Regions from separate parts of the Homo sapiens genome. Here region 2 is linked to region 1. The links come from fine-mapping of genetic effects on gene expression. Tissue or cell type: whole blood. Region 1 holds a variant in brackets; the other region holds the start of a gene. All regions are shown on one strand. Distances are between the middles of the regions.

Region 1 (8,107 bases):
TAGTGAACTGATGGTGGGGTGAGAGGGAGAAGAGACCTTTTAGTCTTTACTTTAAGCTTTTTGTACAGTTTTTTTATAATGAGCATGTAATAAAGCACTAATAAATATTTCCTTAAATTGTTACATTTCAAAAGACTTTCTGAAATTAATCCTAGAGCTTATTCTATTAGCAAAAGTCTCAATGAGGTAAGCATCTAGAAACTCTCTTGCTTTTGCTAAGTAGTGACATTTGCTTTATAAAGTAAGTACAAATTATAAAAAACAGATCAACAAACAACAAATTTCTATGAGGTAGATTTAGCAACATATTGAGCCTTCAGTAGGATACATAGCGATCAAGTCAGCAGGGCCTCCTGGTCCATGCCACCTCCAACCCCCCAAGACACTACATGCCATCGGCTCTTGAAAAATTTCCCATGACCTTCAGAAGCCTCCCTCTGGCATCTCAGAATCTTGCTCTTATTTATTTCTCAAAACATGAAGTTTCCCTATTCATTTCTTTTCCTTCAAAATAGAAATGTCTTTAAAATGCTGGCTTATTAAAAAAAAACACGTTTATTATATAGAATTTAAATAATACAAGTTAAAAATGGAAGTCCCTCCTTAATCTAACCATCCTCTAGAGATGTACACTTTTTAACAATTTACTGTTTAATATCTATAGCAAATAGATATGTAATAGAAAATAGTGAATACATATTTATATAATTATATATGTGTATATGTATATATATAACCTAAATATGATGATACTAGACAAATTTTTTATAATACTGCTTTGTTTTACTTAATACATCATGTGTCCTTGCTGCAAATGCCATGATTTCATTCCTTTTTATGGCTGAGTAGTATTCCATAGTGTGTGTATATACATTTATGTGTGTGTATATATATATATATATATATGCATACATATATATATTTACCACATTTTCTTTGTCCACTTGTTGATTGATGGGCATTTGGACTGGTTCCATATTTTTGCAACTGCGAATTGTGTTGCTGTGAACATGTGTGTGCAAGTGTCTTTTTCATACAATGACTTATTTTCCTCTGGGTAGATATCCAGTAGTGGGATTGCTGGATCAAACAGTAGTTCTACTTTTAGTTCCTTAAGGAGTCTCTATACTGTTTTCCATAGTGGTTGTACTGGTTTACATTCCCACCAGCAGTGCAAAAGTGTTCCCTTTACACCACATCCATGCCAACATCTATTATTTTTTGATTTTTAAATTATGACCATTCTTGCAGGAGAGTAAGGTAGTGTCTCACTGTGGTTTTAATTTGCATTTCCCTGATAATTAGTGATGTTGAGCATTTTTTCATGTTTGTTGGCCATTTGTATATCTTCTTTTAAGAATGGTCTAGCGAAATGAATGAATTGAAGTGAGAAGGGAAGTTTAGAGAAAAAAGAATAAAGAGAAACGGACAAAGCCTCCCAGAAATATGGGATTATGTGAAAAGACCAAATCTACGTCTGATTGGTGTACCTGAAAGTGACGGGGAGAATGGAACCAAGTTGGAAAACACTCTGCGGGATATTATCCAGGAGAACTTCCCCAATCTAGCAAGGCAAGCCAACATTCAAATTAAGGAAATACAGAGAACGCCACAAAGATACTCCTCGAGAAGAGCAACTCCAAGACACATAATTATCAGATTCACCAAAGTTGAAATGAAGGAAAAAATGTTAAGGGCAGCCAGAGAGAAAGGTCGGGTTACCCACAAAGGGAAGCCCATCAGACTAACAGCAGACCTTTTGGCAGAAACTCTATAAGCCAGAAGAGAGTGGTAGCCAATATTCAACATTCTTAAAGAAAAGAATTTTCAACCCAGAATTTCATGTCCAGCCAACCTAAGCTTCATAAGTGAAGGAGAAATAAAATACTTTACAGACAAGCAAACACTGAGAGATTCTGTCACCACCAGGCCTGCCCTAAAAGAGCTCCTGAAGGAAGCACTAAACATGGAAAGGAACAACTGGTACCAGCCACTGCAAAAACATGCCAAATTGTAAAGACCATCAAGGCTAGGAAGAAACTGCATCAACTAACGAGCAAAATAACCAGCTAACATCATAATGACAGGATCAAATTCACACATAACAATATTAACCTTAAATGTAAATGGGCTAAATGCTCCAATTAAAAGACACAGACTGGCAAATTGGATAAAGAGTCAAGACCCATCAGTGTGCTGTATTCAGGAAACCCATCTCGTGTGCAGAGACACACATAGGCTTAAATAAAGGGATGGAGGAAGATCTATCAAGCAAATAGAAAACAAAAAAAGGCAGGGGTTGCAATCCTAGTCTCAGATAAAACAGACTTTAAACCAACAAAGATCAAAAGAGACAAAGAAGGCCATTACATAATGGTAAAGGGATCAATTCAACAAGAAGAGCTAACTATCCTAAATATATATGCACCCAATACAGGAGCACCCAAATTCATAAAGCAAGTCCTTAGTGACCCACAAAGAGACTTAGACTCCCACACAATAATAATGGGAGACTTTAACACCCCACTGTCAACATTAGACAGATCAATGAGACAGAAAGTTAACAAGGATATCCAGGAATTGAACTCAGCTCTGCACCAAGTGGACCTAATAGATAGACATCTACAGAACTCTCCACCCCTAATCAACAGAATATACATTCTTTTCAGCGCCACACCACACTTATTCCAAAATTGACCACATAGTTGGAAGTAAAGCACTCCTCAGCAAATGTAAAAGAACAGAAATTATAACAAACTGTCTCTCAGACCACAGTGCAATCAAACTAGAACTCAGGATTAAGAAACTCACACAAAACTGCTCAACTACATGGAAACTGAACAACCTGCTCCTGAATGACTACTGGGTACGTAACGAAATGAAGGCAGAAATAAAGATGTTCTTTGAAACCAACGAGAACAAAGACACAACATACCAGAATCTCTGGGACACATTCAAAGCAGTATGTAGAGGGAAATTTATGGCACTAAATGCCCACAAGAGAAAGCAGGAAAGATCTAAAATTGACAACCTAACATCACAATTAAAAGAACTAGAGAAGCAAGAGCAAACATATTCAAAAGCTAGCAGAAGGCAAGAAATAACTAAGATCACAGCAGAACTGAAGGAAATAGAGACACAAAAAGCCCTTCAACAAATCAGTGAATCCAGGAGCTGGTTTTTTGAAAAGATCAACAAAATTGATAGACTGCTAGCAAGACTAATAAAGAAGAAAACAGGGAAGAATCAAACAGATGCAATAAAAAATGGTAAAGGGGATATCACCACCGATCCCACAGAAATACAAACTACCATCAGAGAATACTATAAACACCTCTATGCAAATAAACTAGAAAATCTAGAAGAAATAGATAAATTCCTCGACACACACACCCTCCCAAGACTAAACGAGGAAGAAGTTGAATCTCTGAATAGACCAATAACAGGCTCTGAAATTGAGGCAATAATTAATAGCTTACCAACCAAAAAAAGTCCAGGACCAGATGGATTCACAGCCGAATTCTACCAGAGATACAAGGAGAAGCTGGTACCATTCCTTCTGAAACTATTCCAATCAATAGAAAAAGAGGGAATCTGCCCTAACTCATTTTATGAGGCCAGCATCATCCTGATACCAAAGCTTGGCAGAGACACAACAAAAAAAGAGAATTTTAGACCAATATCCTTGATGAACATTGATGCAAAAATCCTCAATAAAATACTGGCAAACCGAATCCAGCAGCACATCAAAAAGCTTATCCACCATGATGAAGTGGGCTTCATCCCTGGGATGGAAGGCTGGATCAACATACGAAAATCAATAAACGTAATCCAGCATATAAACAGAACCAAAGACAAAAGCCACATGATTATCTCAATAGATGCAGAAAAGGCCTTTGACAAAATTCAACAACTCTTCATGCTAAAAACTCTCAATAAATTAGGTAATGATGGGACATATCTCAAAATAATAAGAGCTATCTATGACAAACCCACAGCCAATATCATACTGAATGGGCAAAAACTGGAAGCATTCCCTTTGAAAACTGGCACAAGACAGGG[C/A]TACCCTCTCTCACCACTCCTATTCAACATAGTGTTGGAAGTTCTGGCCAGGGCAATCAGGCAGGAGAAGGAAATAAAGGGCATTCAATTAGGAAAAGAGGAAGTCAAATTGTCCCTGTTTGCAGATGACATGATTGTATGTCTAGAAAACCCCATCATCTCAGCCCAAAATCTCCTTAAGCTGATAAACAACTTCAGCAAAGTCTCAGGATACAAAATCAATGTGCAAAAACCACAAGCGTTCTTATACACCAATAACAGACAAACAGAGAGCCAAATTATGAGTGAACTCCCATTCACAATTGCTTCAAAGAGAATAAAATACCTGGGAGTCCAACTTACAAGGGATGTGAAGGACCTCTTCAAGGAGAACTACAAACCACTGCTCAATGAAATAAAAGAGGATACAAACAAATGGAAGAACATTTCATGCTCATGGGTAGGAAGAATCAATGTCATGAAAATGGCCATACTGCCCAAGGTAATTTATAGATTCAATGCCATCCCCATCAAGCTACCAATAACTTTCTTCACAGAATTGGAAAAAAATACTTTAAAGTTCATATGGAACCAAAAAAGAGCCTGCATTGCCAAGTCAATCCTAAGCCAAAAGAACAAAGCTGAAGGCATCACGCTACCTGACTTCAAACTATACTACAAGGCTACAGTAACCAAAACAGCATGATACTGGTACCAAAACAGAGATACAGACCAATGGAACAGAACAGAGCCCTCAGAAATAATGCCACATATCTACAACTATCCGATCTTTGACAAACCTGACAAAAACAAACAATGGGGAAAGGATTCCCTATTTAATAAATGGTGCTGGGAAAACTGGCTAGCCATACGTAGAAAGCTGAAACTGGATCCCTTCCTTACACCTTAGACAAAAATTAATTCAAGATGGATTAAAGACTTACATGTTAGACCCAAAACCATAAAAACCCTAGAAGAAAACCTAGGCAATACTATTCAGGACATGGGCATGGGCAAAGACTTCATGTCTAATACACCAAAAGCAATGGCAACAAAAGCCAAAATTGACAAATGGGATCTAATTAAACTAAAGAGCTTCTGCACAGCAAAAGAAACTACCATCAGAGTGAACAGGCAACCTACAGAATGGGAGAAAATTTTTGCAACCTAATCATCTGACAAAGGGCTAATATCCAGAATCTAAAATGAACTCAAACAAATTTACAAGAAAAAAACAAACAACCCCATCACAAAGTGGGCGAAGGACCTGAATAGACACTTCTCAAAAGAAGACATTTTTGCAGCCAACAGATACATGAAAAAATGCTCATCATCACTGGCCATCAGAGAAATGCAAATCAAAACCACAATGAGATACCATCTCACACCAGTTAGAATGGCAATCATTAAAAAGTCAGGAAACGACAGGTGCTGGAGAGGATGTGGAGAAATAGGAACACTTTTACACTGTTGGTGGGACTGTAAACTAGTTCAACCATTATGGAAGACAGTGTGGCGATTCCTCAAGGATCTAGAACTAGAAATACCATTTGACCCAGCCATCCCATTACTGGGTATATACCCAAAGGATTATAAATCATGCTGCTATAAAGACACATGCACACGTATGTTTACTGCGGCACTATTCACAATAGCAAAGACTTGGAACCAACCCAAATGTCAATCAATGATAGACTGGATTAAGAAAATGTGGCACATATACACCATGGAATACTATGCAGCCATAAAAAATGATGAGTTCATGTCCTTTGCAGGGACATGGATGGAGCTGGAAACCATCATTCTCAGCAAACTATCGCAGGGACAAAAAAACAAACACTGCATGTTCTCACTCATAGGTGGGAATTGAACAATGAGAACACATGGACACAGGAAGGGGAACATCACACACCGGGGACTGTCGTGGGGTGGGGGGAGGGGGGAGGGATAGCATTAGGAGATATACCTAATGTAAATGACGAGTTAATGGGTGCAGCACACCAACATGGCGTATGTATACATATCTAACAAACCTGCATGTTGTGTACATGTACCCTAGAACTTAAAGTATAATTAAAAAAAAAAGATCATCCAACCTAGATTAATGTATTGTTAAGTTTTTGGGGATTTTATTGGTGTTATTTTCTCTCCTTTGTTGAACTTGTGAATATTTATATATTTAGTACTTTTCAAAAAAAATTAAAAAAATAAAATTCATGGTCTGAAACCACAATTACTTTTGTACCAACAAAAATATAAATATAAATAAATATAAATATAAATATACACACATTTATGTATACATATGTAAACAAATGTGTTTTTAATGTTCTTTAATTCCAGTTTCCTATTGAACTTGTTTCTTCCCTTTCTTATTTATATAAACAGCACAATGTGATCTTTAAAAATAATTTCTAAATTACCTCATAAGTAATTCCCTACAGATGTTCCCTCTTTCTTGTTAGTGTTTCTAATTTGCCCACAACATTGGATTCTGTTTAGCAACCAAGGCTACAGTGTAGCCAGACTGACTAAAGCAATGACAATTTTTAATACCATATTTACCAACTAAGAATCAGATCATCAGTGCTGAATGCAACTGTGGCAAAAACTCCCTCCCCAACAAATTCTCTGTGGCTTGAGAACACCCAGGCTAACTAGTTCTGGAAAGAATGGGAATGAAACTGGATTTCTGTGTTGCACATAGCTATGCTTCAAGAGGCAGGACTCGATAACAGGAACTCCCTGCAGGAAGGACAGCATAGAATGAAGACTGCTAGGATAAAGACCTAACCTTTTTAAGGGTGGTGCTGGGGTATGCCCGCTTTTTGCTATTTACAGTGGTGTGCTGGAGCTGACTCTTTCTTATGTACTCACAAGAGCTGATTCTTAAAATTTCCAGATTTTTGTGAGCCAGTTGATATGTTGATATAGCTTGAAATAGGCTGTGGTAGAACTACTTACACCATGGAAACTGGTAAGTGCTACAAATCAGCTCCCCATTCCCCGAGAGTTGGTTGTTGGACATTTCCCAGACCATCACTGCTTGTCTGACTCACAACTATCAATGAGGTAGATATTACTGTCCCCATTGTACAGATGAGGAAACAGACAAAAAAACTTTAGGTCTTAGGGATACATTACAGAGGGCATAAAACAAAACAAAACAAAAAACATCAAAAATCTGAAGCAGAATGAAACTGCCAATGCAGAAATCGGGACAGGACAGTCCTGACCCTGAGGGCTGTATCTAGAGGAGAAAGATCCTACATAGAGGCAGGCAATGCGATAGTCTCAGGAACTGCCAAACTGAGGTTCAGAAGGCTGGGAGAACAATCTCAATGAGGAACTAAGGGATCAAATAGAAAAGCCTCCAGGGGGAGTTCAAGACTCCTCCACCCTTTTCCAGCCCCTATCTCTCCCTGCTTTGGTTGGATGAATCACATTCAAAGGCAAGAAATTTCAGTCCCCTAAGGAGGAAAGGTTTGCTCAAGCTTGAAGGCAGGAATTGGCCATGTTTCCCAGGAAGTGAAACTTTCTGAGAAGTTACAAACTCAAGACACAAGGGTATGTTCATTGACTTTAGATTTACATCCTCGCAGTGACTGGAATGAAAAAGGCCCTTGGCCAAGGTGGCACCCTCCTTCCTCTTCAAGGAGTTCAATCTAAGGCAAGGGCCCTGGCCCAAAAAAAAGTCCAAGGTGAAGAGCCAGTGCCAGCTCAGCCACAGGGCATTCAAGTGAGGTTCAGTTTCTTCTGAATTTGGGTTTGCAGCCAACTAATAACCAAATATTACTCTGCCAGTCATTGTCTTGTCATGTATTTCCCTCAGGAACCTTGAGGGGAGGGTAGACTGTGGTTTGGACCATGGTTAAGGTAAGTCTGGATCTATGGCATTACCTATTGTTTTCTCAGAGACCAAGAAAATGAAGAGCTCATACAGTTCATAAGAAGCCAGAAGTAGAATCAGATCTGATTACGACAGTGCCTATGTTCTCTTCTAGAGCTTTGTCTTGGGCCAAGCCAGGTGACCTTAGGAGAAACTCTCTTGCTGGGGTCCTGGAGG
Region 2 (8,107 bases), 98 kb after region 1:
GAGGGACGTCTTTACAGATTGTGCCAAAGATCTATATGTACCAGTGGGGAACCCTACTGCAAACTCAAAGGTCCCCTTTTAAACAAGCCTCTTGAAGGTCTCAAATGAGCATCAGCTAAAATAATAATACTTCACTTACTAAATATTTATTGAGTTCCCATTAGGGAACTCAAGGTGCTAATGGCTGACAAGGACCTTTTGGACTTGCACAAGAGCCTGGTGTGTACCACCTTCTAAGGAAAGCTTGGGATGTTCTCTGAGAGGAACACCAAATTCAAGAACCTGTCCCAGGGGCTGATGAATGTGGCTGCCAAGCTGACCCACAATAAGTACGTCAGAGGACCTCACAGACCTCATGGAGAAGGTCATTGAAACCTGACACCTTAACCATTGGTTGCTGAATGACATGTGCTCTTCCTGAATCAGTACTCAGCATATGTCCACTTCCTGCGTGGCTTCTGGCCCTCTATGACTGCTATATGGTCATCCTCTGTGGCTACCTCCTGTACCCCTATCATGACTGAGGCCCCTCTCCCACCACTCTGCCCACACTGATGAGAAAGTTGCCACAAGTTTAGAGACTAAAAATAAAATTGCACTAGACACTGCAGATCTAAAGGTGAATACAGAAAATATAATTGGAAGGGAGAGAAGGTGATGCAGAGGGCAGGAGCATGGACAAGTATGATGAGTGCCACCTTAGGCATAACTGATGAGGTACTATAGAAGCATCCAAGATGGGGGCTAATCTAGACTTGAAGGATTAGAGAAGGCTTAAAGGGGAATAACACCCAATATGAGGCTTCAAGCAGTGATAGCAAATGTTAATATTTATTTAGCAATACTATATATCAGGCCCTGTTCTAAAAACTTTGCATGAATCCCTCATTCAGTCCTTACCACAACCCTGTAAGATAGATGTTACTGTTATTCTCTTCATGTTACAGATGATGAAACTAAGGCACACAGTAAATGGTGGAGCTGAAATTCAAACCCAGGCAGCTCGGCTCCAGACTAAAGGGGAAGCAGAGTACCAGATAGGCCCTTAAAACAGAAGAAAGTGCCTAGCTTCAGTCTGAGGAAAGATGCAGTTCCTTTGGGGAACTGAAAGCAACTCAATGAGGCGCAGCTTGGGGTGGGGACAGACGTTCAGAGATGACTGGGTCTGCTCTGTAGGTTGGAAGAAAAACCAGAAGCAGAGGGTTTCAGATCCAGTCCAAATCTTTTTTTTTTTTTTTTTTTTTTTTTTTTGAGACAGTGTCTCACTCTCGCCCAGGCTGGAGTGCAGTGGTGCAACCTCAGCTCACTGCAACCTCTGCCTCCCGGGTTCAGGTGATTCTCCTACCTCAGCCTTCCAAGTGGCTGGGACTACAGGCGCACACCACCACACCCAGCTAATTTTTGTATTTTTAGTAGAGACAGGGTTTCATCATGTTGGCCAGGCCGGTCTCGAACTCCTGACCTCAGGTGATCCGCCCACCTCGGCCTCCCAAAGTGCTGGGATTACAGGTGCGAGCCACCACATCCAGCCCCCCAGTCCAGACTTTTGACAACTAGCTGTGACTGGTGTCACCAAACTAACCCCTTCTGACCTCAGTTTCTCCTTTTTGCAAAAGACCATAATAACAATACCTGCTTCTCATAGAGAATGGCCATGAGCACCAAATGAGGAAAATGTATGTGAACTTGAGTGCAAAGTACAAATTCCTTCACAGACTTAAGATTTTACCAGTATCACTTCCCCAGTAGCTTCAAGGATTTGCAAACCTGAAATCCACAATGTCAGGGCACCAGAAAAAGCAGAGAAACAGTATTGGGGAGTGGAAAAGCCCACCAGCCCTGCCTCAGACCACCTCCATCCACACTCAGCCCTTACTAACTATGAGATCTCAAGGCAAGTTATCCTCTCAGTACCTCAATTATGCCATCTGGAAAATGGGAATGTCAATGATAGCACTTGTAAGGTTCATGTGACAAGTAAGTAGCACATGTAATATGCTAGGTATAGCTCCCAACACAGAATAAAGACTTAGTCAACATTAACAGCTATCATTATTGTAAGTATTAAGAAATATGTTGGCTACTCATGCTATTCTTCCATGTTCTATACGGTATAAGCATGTGGGAATGTTAGAAGTTAGAGATGATAAAGAAGGAGGAGAAGGAGGTTTACAACCCTATACTCCCTCACTGCTGCAGAGATTCTTCCTGGCTCTCACACGCTGGCAAGCAGCTGGCTCTCCGTCTTGGCAGAAAATGCCCAAAAGAGGTAAAAGATAGAGACTGCACACCATCTGTGCAAACCAGGCTGCTCTTGTAGTTTTTAGACAAAATCTAAATGTAGTCAGATGTGACCTGCCCTTTTAAGATAGAATTATTCTATTTCCTCCCTCTACCCGTCCCCGTCCCCCACTCTGTCCCCCACATAAAACTCCCCCACATATCTCAAGAAACTTTCAGCATTTTGAAAGACATACTCTGGGGTCCTGTTGTGACAGCCTTGTGCCACATTAACTTCTCTGTCTTGTTCCCAGCAAAGAAGCCTTTGCTAATTTCACAACAGGAAAGCATGCAAGAAATTCGAGAACAAAACAAATCTACACGCAGAGCCCAGCATCTTCAAGCAAACACCCTGAGGTACAGACCCGAGGCTAGATGAGTCCGGACTGCAGATGAGGCAGCTGCCTCTTAAACTGCAAGGGGACTGAAAAAGTCATTTGCCTCTAAAAAAACCAACTCTGAATACAAATTGATAATGAATATTCATGAGCCCCTCCAGCTTGCTCTAGAGCCACCCTTGACTGCAACCCTGGACTCTGCTTCCTAAAAAGTTTCCCAAAGCTCTTTCTCTGCCTCCTCTCAGAAGGAAGAGGGTGGGAAAGTTCATTCAGGGCTTTTTGCCTCCAGCTTTCAAGTACTTGCTTTTTGGTCTGGGCTTTTATTTTTCCTTCTATTTTTTTTTTCTTAAGGATTCAGATCAAATCAATTTTGGTCTTACCCTTTGTATCTTCCATAAGTAGCAGCTTTTGTTTTCCTCCTCTTTCCTCGTCTTTCCCCCCCCCAGCCTCTGCTTGCTGTGGTCCGTCTCCGTGAGAGAGGTCCTCAAGGAAACAGAGATATAACAGACCCTTGGGCTCGTGGGAGGGGCTAAATTAGCCGGCCCCGTTTCGGAAGGAACCTCAAACCCTGTCTTTTTCATTGACTAGAAAGGACAGATTGACTGAGGAGTCCAGCAGCTCATTTTCCTAAAGTTACTCGAAGCCTTTTCCAGGTTGTAATTTTTTGCATCCTTGAAGCAATGTATATTCAAATCTCTCTCTCTTTCTCCCTTCTTCCCTCTCTCCCTTACTCCCTCCCTCTTCATCTCTCTCTCCCTCTCTTCGTTATAGAAATCCCTTTTTCTCCCTTGAAAAAGTCATCTCAGCTGCAAGCAAAAAAAGCTATTCCTTACTGCAATTATGAAGCTAGATAATAAGAAAGTTGTTACCTTGAAACCCGCTCGAAAAACTGAAAGTCAAGAACAGTTCTTCCCTCCCCATAAAGCCTCTGGTCCCATGACCAGCAATCCTTTCTCAAGGCTCATTAGAGCAAAGAGCAACAGGTGACCCAAGCGATGAGTTTCCTGCAGGAGACGCTGCGTTATTGGTTGGAAGGCTGGGTGGAACCACAGAGGAGCTGCTCAATGGGAACCGCTGCCTGGCTATGAATTGATGAAAGTCATCCACCATTTCCCAACTTTGACTTCCTACCTTTGAAGTCTAATGAGCATGAATTACCACATCCAGACCGTCAAGATTACCCCAATGTAGATGAGAGCCTGACCAAATTATTTTTAAACTGTGTAACAAAATTATTTTGAAATCAAAACAAGGGCTAATCCTTTGAAAGGAAGGTAAGTCCTCAAGTCCCAAGGCGACTTGGCAGCTTCTCCCTCCACAAGGCTGTTGCAAACCTTAGCATTTCAGGTCTGAAAGATACCTCAGACATTGAGTCTAAAAGAGGTTAGAGATGTGGAGAGGTTAAGCCACCTGCTCATGCTCACATACATGGTCTCTCTTATTTGCTACCATGTTCCCCAGCACCTAATACAGTTTCTCTCACAGCATGGGCTCTCAATAAATATTTGATGAATGGTTGAAAAAAATGAATGAATTGCAGCAAAGCAGAAATGTAGATCTGTTTTCCTGTTTCCTAGTTCTTGATTTTTCTACATTGCTTGTCTGGCATGTAAATTTGTATCTAAAGCCAGTTATACCATATAAATCATTAAATTTGTGAGCCCGAAGGACTGTTTTGACTCTATGTAGAAACTATATTCTCCAGCGAGCTTTCAGTCATACTTTAATAAGGACAAAGGATAACCTTTTAGTTTAGGCATCTCTGTTACTTTGCACGGTGCCACATGGTATATACTCAATACATTTTTTATACTTTAATAAATTTGGAGCTGTTTAACAATACTTTATTTCTGAAATGCTTTATAGTTATAGGATTTTGCATGTATGATAACAACTAATTACACTGAATGAAAGACTCAATGGATGTCTTCTCCCGAGTCAGTTTAGACTACATCTCTAATAATGAATATTGGTCTGATATTCATCCTGTTATGATAAAACTGGTTTTTGGTGATATGATGGGATTTTTTGTAAAAACCAACAATTGGTTTATGACTGCCTTTGTACTATTGTTTTGGAGAGAAATTTGAAAAGAGCATGTCCACAAAATAGTGTGCGAATTACAGAATGGAAACCAAAACATCAAAGCTAGAAAGAGAAAAGAATGATCAAAGGGAAGATCCAGAGTGGCTGAGGGGTAGGCAGGAGAAACAGACAAACAAGTACCTGAGCTTGTCAATGAGAGACACACTTTGGTGGGTGCTGTGGCAACGGTTCTCTACTTTATTACATTAGGATATTAGGTTCTTTTTTTTTTTTTTTTTTTGAGACAAGAGTTTTACTCTTGTCTCCCAGGCTGGAGTGCAATGGAGCCATCTCAGCTTACTGCACCCTCTGCCTCCCGGGTTCAAGTGATTCTCCTGCCTCTGCCTCCAAGTAGCTGGGATTACAGGCGCCCGCCACCTTGCCCAGCTAATTTGTGTATTTTTAGTAGAGATGGGGTTTCACCATGTTGGTCAGGCTGGTCTCGAACTCCTGACCTCAGGTGATCCGCCCGCCTCAGCCTCCCAAAGTGCTGGGATTACAGGCGTGAGCCACCATGCCTGGCCTATTTTACTACGTTCTTACATTCTTTTTTTTGAGACAGAGCCTCACTCTGTCATCCAGGCTGGAGTGCAGTGGCGTGATCTTGGCTCACTGCAACCTCTGCCTCCCAGGTTCAAGTGATTCTTGTGCCTCAGCCTCCCGCGTAACTGGGATTATAGATGCGCACCACTAAGCCTGGCTAATTTTTGTATTTTTAGTAGAGATTGGGTTTCACCATGTTGTCCAGGCTGGTCTCAAACTCCTGGCCTCAAGTGATCCGCTTGCCTTGGCCTCCCAAAGTGCTAGGATTACAGGTGTGAGCCACAGTGCCTAGCCACAGTTCTCTATTTTAAACAAAATTAAAATTCAAGGTCACTTCAGTCATGTTGTATCAGACGTTGTCGACAAAAGGTTACTTTGACAATTGTCTCATTCTCTTTACATTTCATCAGGGAGAGAAAGAGTTAGTAAAAAGTAAATTGTTCTAGTACCCAACTTCTGGTTTAACCAGGAGAGGTAAAATCTCATTATAGTAACTAGCACTTCATAAATATTTGAAGTTCATCCAAACTGAATATGGAGTAATAGAAACATAGTTTTAACCCCTAATTCATATTACATGAGCCTTTTGACAACATTTAATGCTTTTTATGGTAATATGCTCTGTGCTACAATTTAATCACGTTGTCCAGGTTCGCACCCTCCTCAGCATCATGAAAATACTATGGTTAAGTATATATTATCACCAATTCATACAAGAATAATTATAAAAGAGATGGGAGTTTGTGTGTATCTTTCTAAAGGCCTCAGAATTTATCTTAAAAAATAAATCGTCTTTCTCAACAAAAAATTATCATCAATTTTATTGTTTTTTTTTGTAATAGAAAGTAGAAAATTAAAACTGCACTCAGAAAGATGGAAGGAGTTGTCAGAAAGGGGTAAAGATATTTGTCTGTCTTTTAATGATGAAATGGTCTTATAAAGTTCTTAGAATGGTAGAATTTTCATTTTTCCTACACCTTCATCCTCTTTCACTGTACCGGTTCATCCCCCTATGCATATAAAATATTTAAGTGATTCTCATTCTTAAAAACAAATTCTGTTGTTTAATGGTATGAATTATTAGTGTTGCAAGATGAATAAATTCTTGAGATTGGCAGCACAACAATGTGAATGTACTTAAAAATACTTAAGTATACTGTTAAAAATGATTAATATGGGCCAGGTGCATTGGCTCACCGTGTAACCCCAGCATTTTGGGAGGCTGAAGCAGTAGGTTGTCTGGAGGCCTGGAGTTTGAGACCAGCCTAGGCAACATAACAAGACCCCATCTCTACAAAAATAAAAATAAATTTTAAATGATTAATATGGTAACTTTTTTTTTGAGACAGAGTTTCGCTCTTATTGCCCAGGCTGGAGTGCAATGTCGCGATCTCAGCATCTCGGCTCACCGCAACCCCTGCCTCCTGGGTGCAAGTGATTCTCCTGCCTCAGCCTCCCGAGTAGCTGGGATTACAGGCATGCACCACCACACCCAGCTAATTTTGTGTTTTTAGTAGAGACAGGGTTTCTCCATGTTGGTCAGGCGGCTGGTCTCGAACTCCTGACCTCAGGTGATCTGCCCACCTCGGCCTCCCAAAGTGCTGGGATTACAGGCGTGAGACACTGGGCCCAGCAATATAGTAACTTTTATGTCTATTTTATCACAATTTTTAAAAAATTAATTAAAACAAAAACAGCTCCTTCACAAACAAGCTACTTGAGACCATGGTCTACCTTTGCCTTCCTTCATCACCTCCATTCTCTCCTCATTCATTTACTCCTCCTTCCATTGCATTCCCGTTTCTCACCGCACCATGCCAATGAAACTGCCCTAAGATTGCCAATGGCCTGTAAAGCAAAGACCAATTTTTGTGTTTTATCTTCTTGGATCTATGTAGCATGGGCCATTGTTGGCCTTCCTTCTTTCTTGAAAATTGATCTCTCCTTATTTTCCAGAACCCCCCTCATGTCTGATTTTCCTCCTCCATCTGTGTATGATGGCTCCTTTTCAGTCAACTTTTGTGTCTTGTAAATGTTGGTATTCCCTAGACCTTCACCCTTTGCCTTCTCTCCCTACTTCACTTATTCTACCTAGGTCATAACTTCTTATGCCTTTACATTTCTGCCAAGTCCACTCCCATGAGCACCAGATCCATATTTCCATCCACCTACTGGGTGTCAAGAGAATATCCCACAAGCAGCTCAAACTTAGCATCCAAACTGTACTCTGTATCTTTACTTCCAAATCTGCTCCCATCCAGTACCAGTATTCCCTACTTTTTTTTTTTTTTTTGAGACGATGTCTCACTCTGTCGCCCAGGCTGGAGTGCAGTGGCACGATCTTGACTCACTGCAACCTCTGCCTCCCAGGTTCAAGCGATTCTTGTGCCTCCACCTCCTGAGTAGCTGGGATTGCAGGTGCACACCACCATGCCTGGCTAATTTTGTGTTAGGAGAGACAGGGTTTTGCCATGTGGTCCAGCCTGGTCTCGAACTCCTGACCTCAGGTGATAGGCTGCCTCGGCCTCCCAAAGTCCTGGGATTACAGGCGTGAGCCACTGCGCCCAACCCCTACATTAGATAATGGCACTACCATCCACCTAGTCACACAACCCAGCAACCTCAGGGTCCTCCTAGACCCCTCCCCACATCCCACATCTTATTGTTTACCAAATCCAATTGTTTCTATACCTTAAGATCTCTCAAATTCATCTCCTCTCTCCATTCTCGTCACTTCTGCCATAGTGCATACTCTCTCATCTTTCTGAAATCGATATCTGATAATGTCATTGGCAGACTTTAAAAATTCTAGTCTCCTTATCATGCATAAAATAAAATTTAAATTCCTGTCATCGAATATG

What was found. PIP is the estimated chance that this variant, and not a neighbour inherited with it, causes the effect.
Region 2: it holds the start of ENTPD1, and the variant in region 1 is fine-mapped to the expression of ENTPD1 in whole blood (INTERVAL, PIP 0.97).

What each region holds. Positions count from the first base shown.
Region 1 is chr10:95,849,451-95,857,557 of GRCh38, reverse strand. All of the region lies in intron 7 of ENTPD1 (ectonucleoside triphosphate diphosphohydrolase 1), which reads right to left. All of the region lies in intron 3 of ENTPD1-AS1 (ENTPD1 antisense RNA 1), which reads left to right. Among named protein-coding and RNA genes, the nearest start is that of CC2D2B, 54 kb to the left of the region's middle. The variant C/A (reference allele first, on the strand shown) is at 4,063.
Region 2 is chr10:95,751,147-95,759,253 of GRCh38, reverse strand. ENTPD1 (ectonucleoside triphosphate diphosphohydrolase 1) reads right to left here and starts at 3,091. Exons shown (of 10, transcript NM_001776.6): 1 at 2,999-3,091. The coding sequence starts at 3,014. ENTPD1-AS1 (ENTPD1 antisense RNA 1) reads left to right here. Exons shown (of 6, transcript NR_038444.1): 6 at 2,540-6,048. RefSeq lists a silencer at 1,841-1,900 and an enhancer at 3,231-3,530.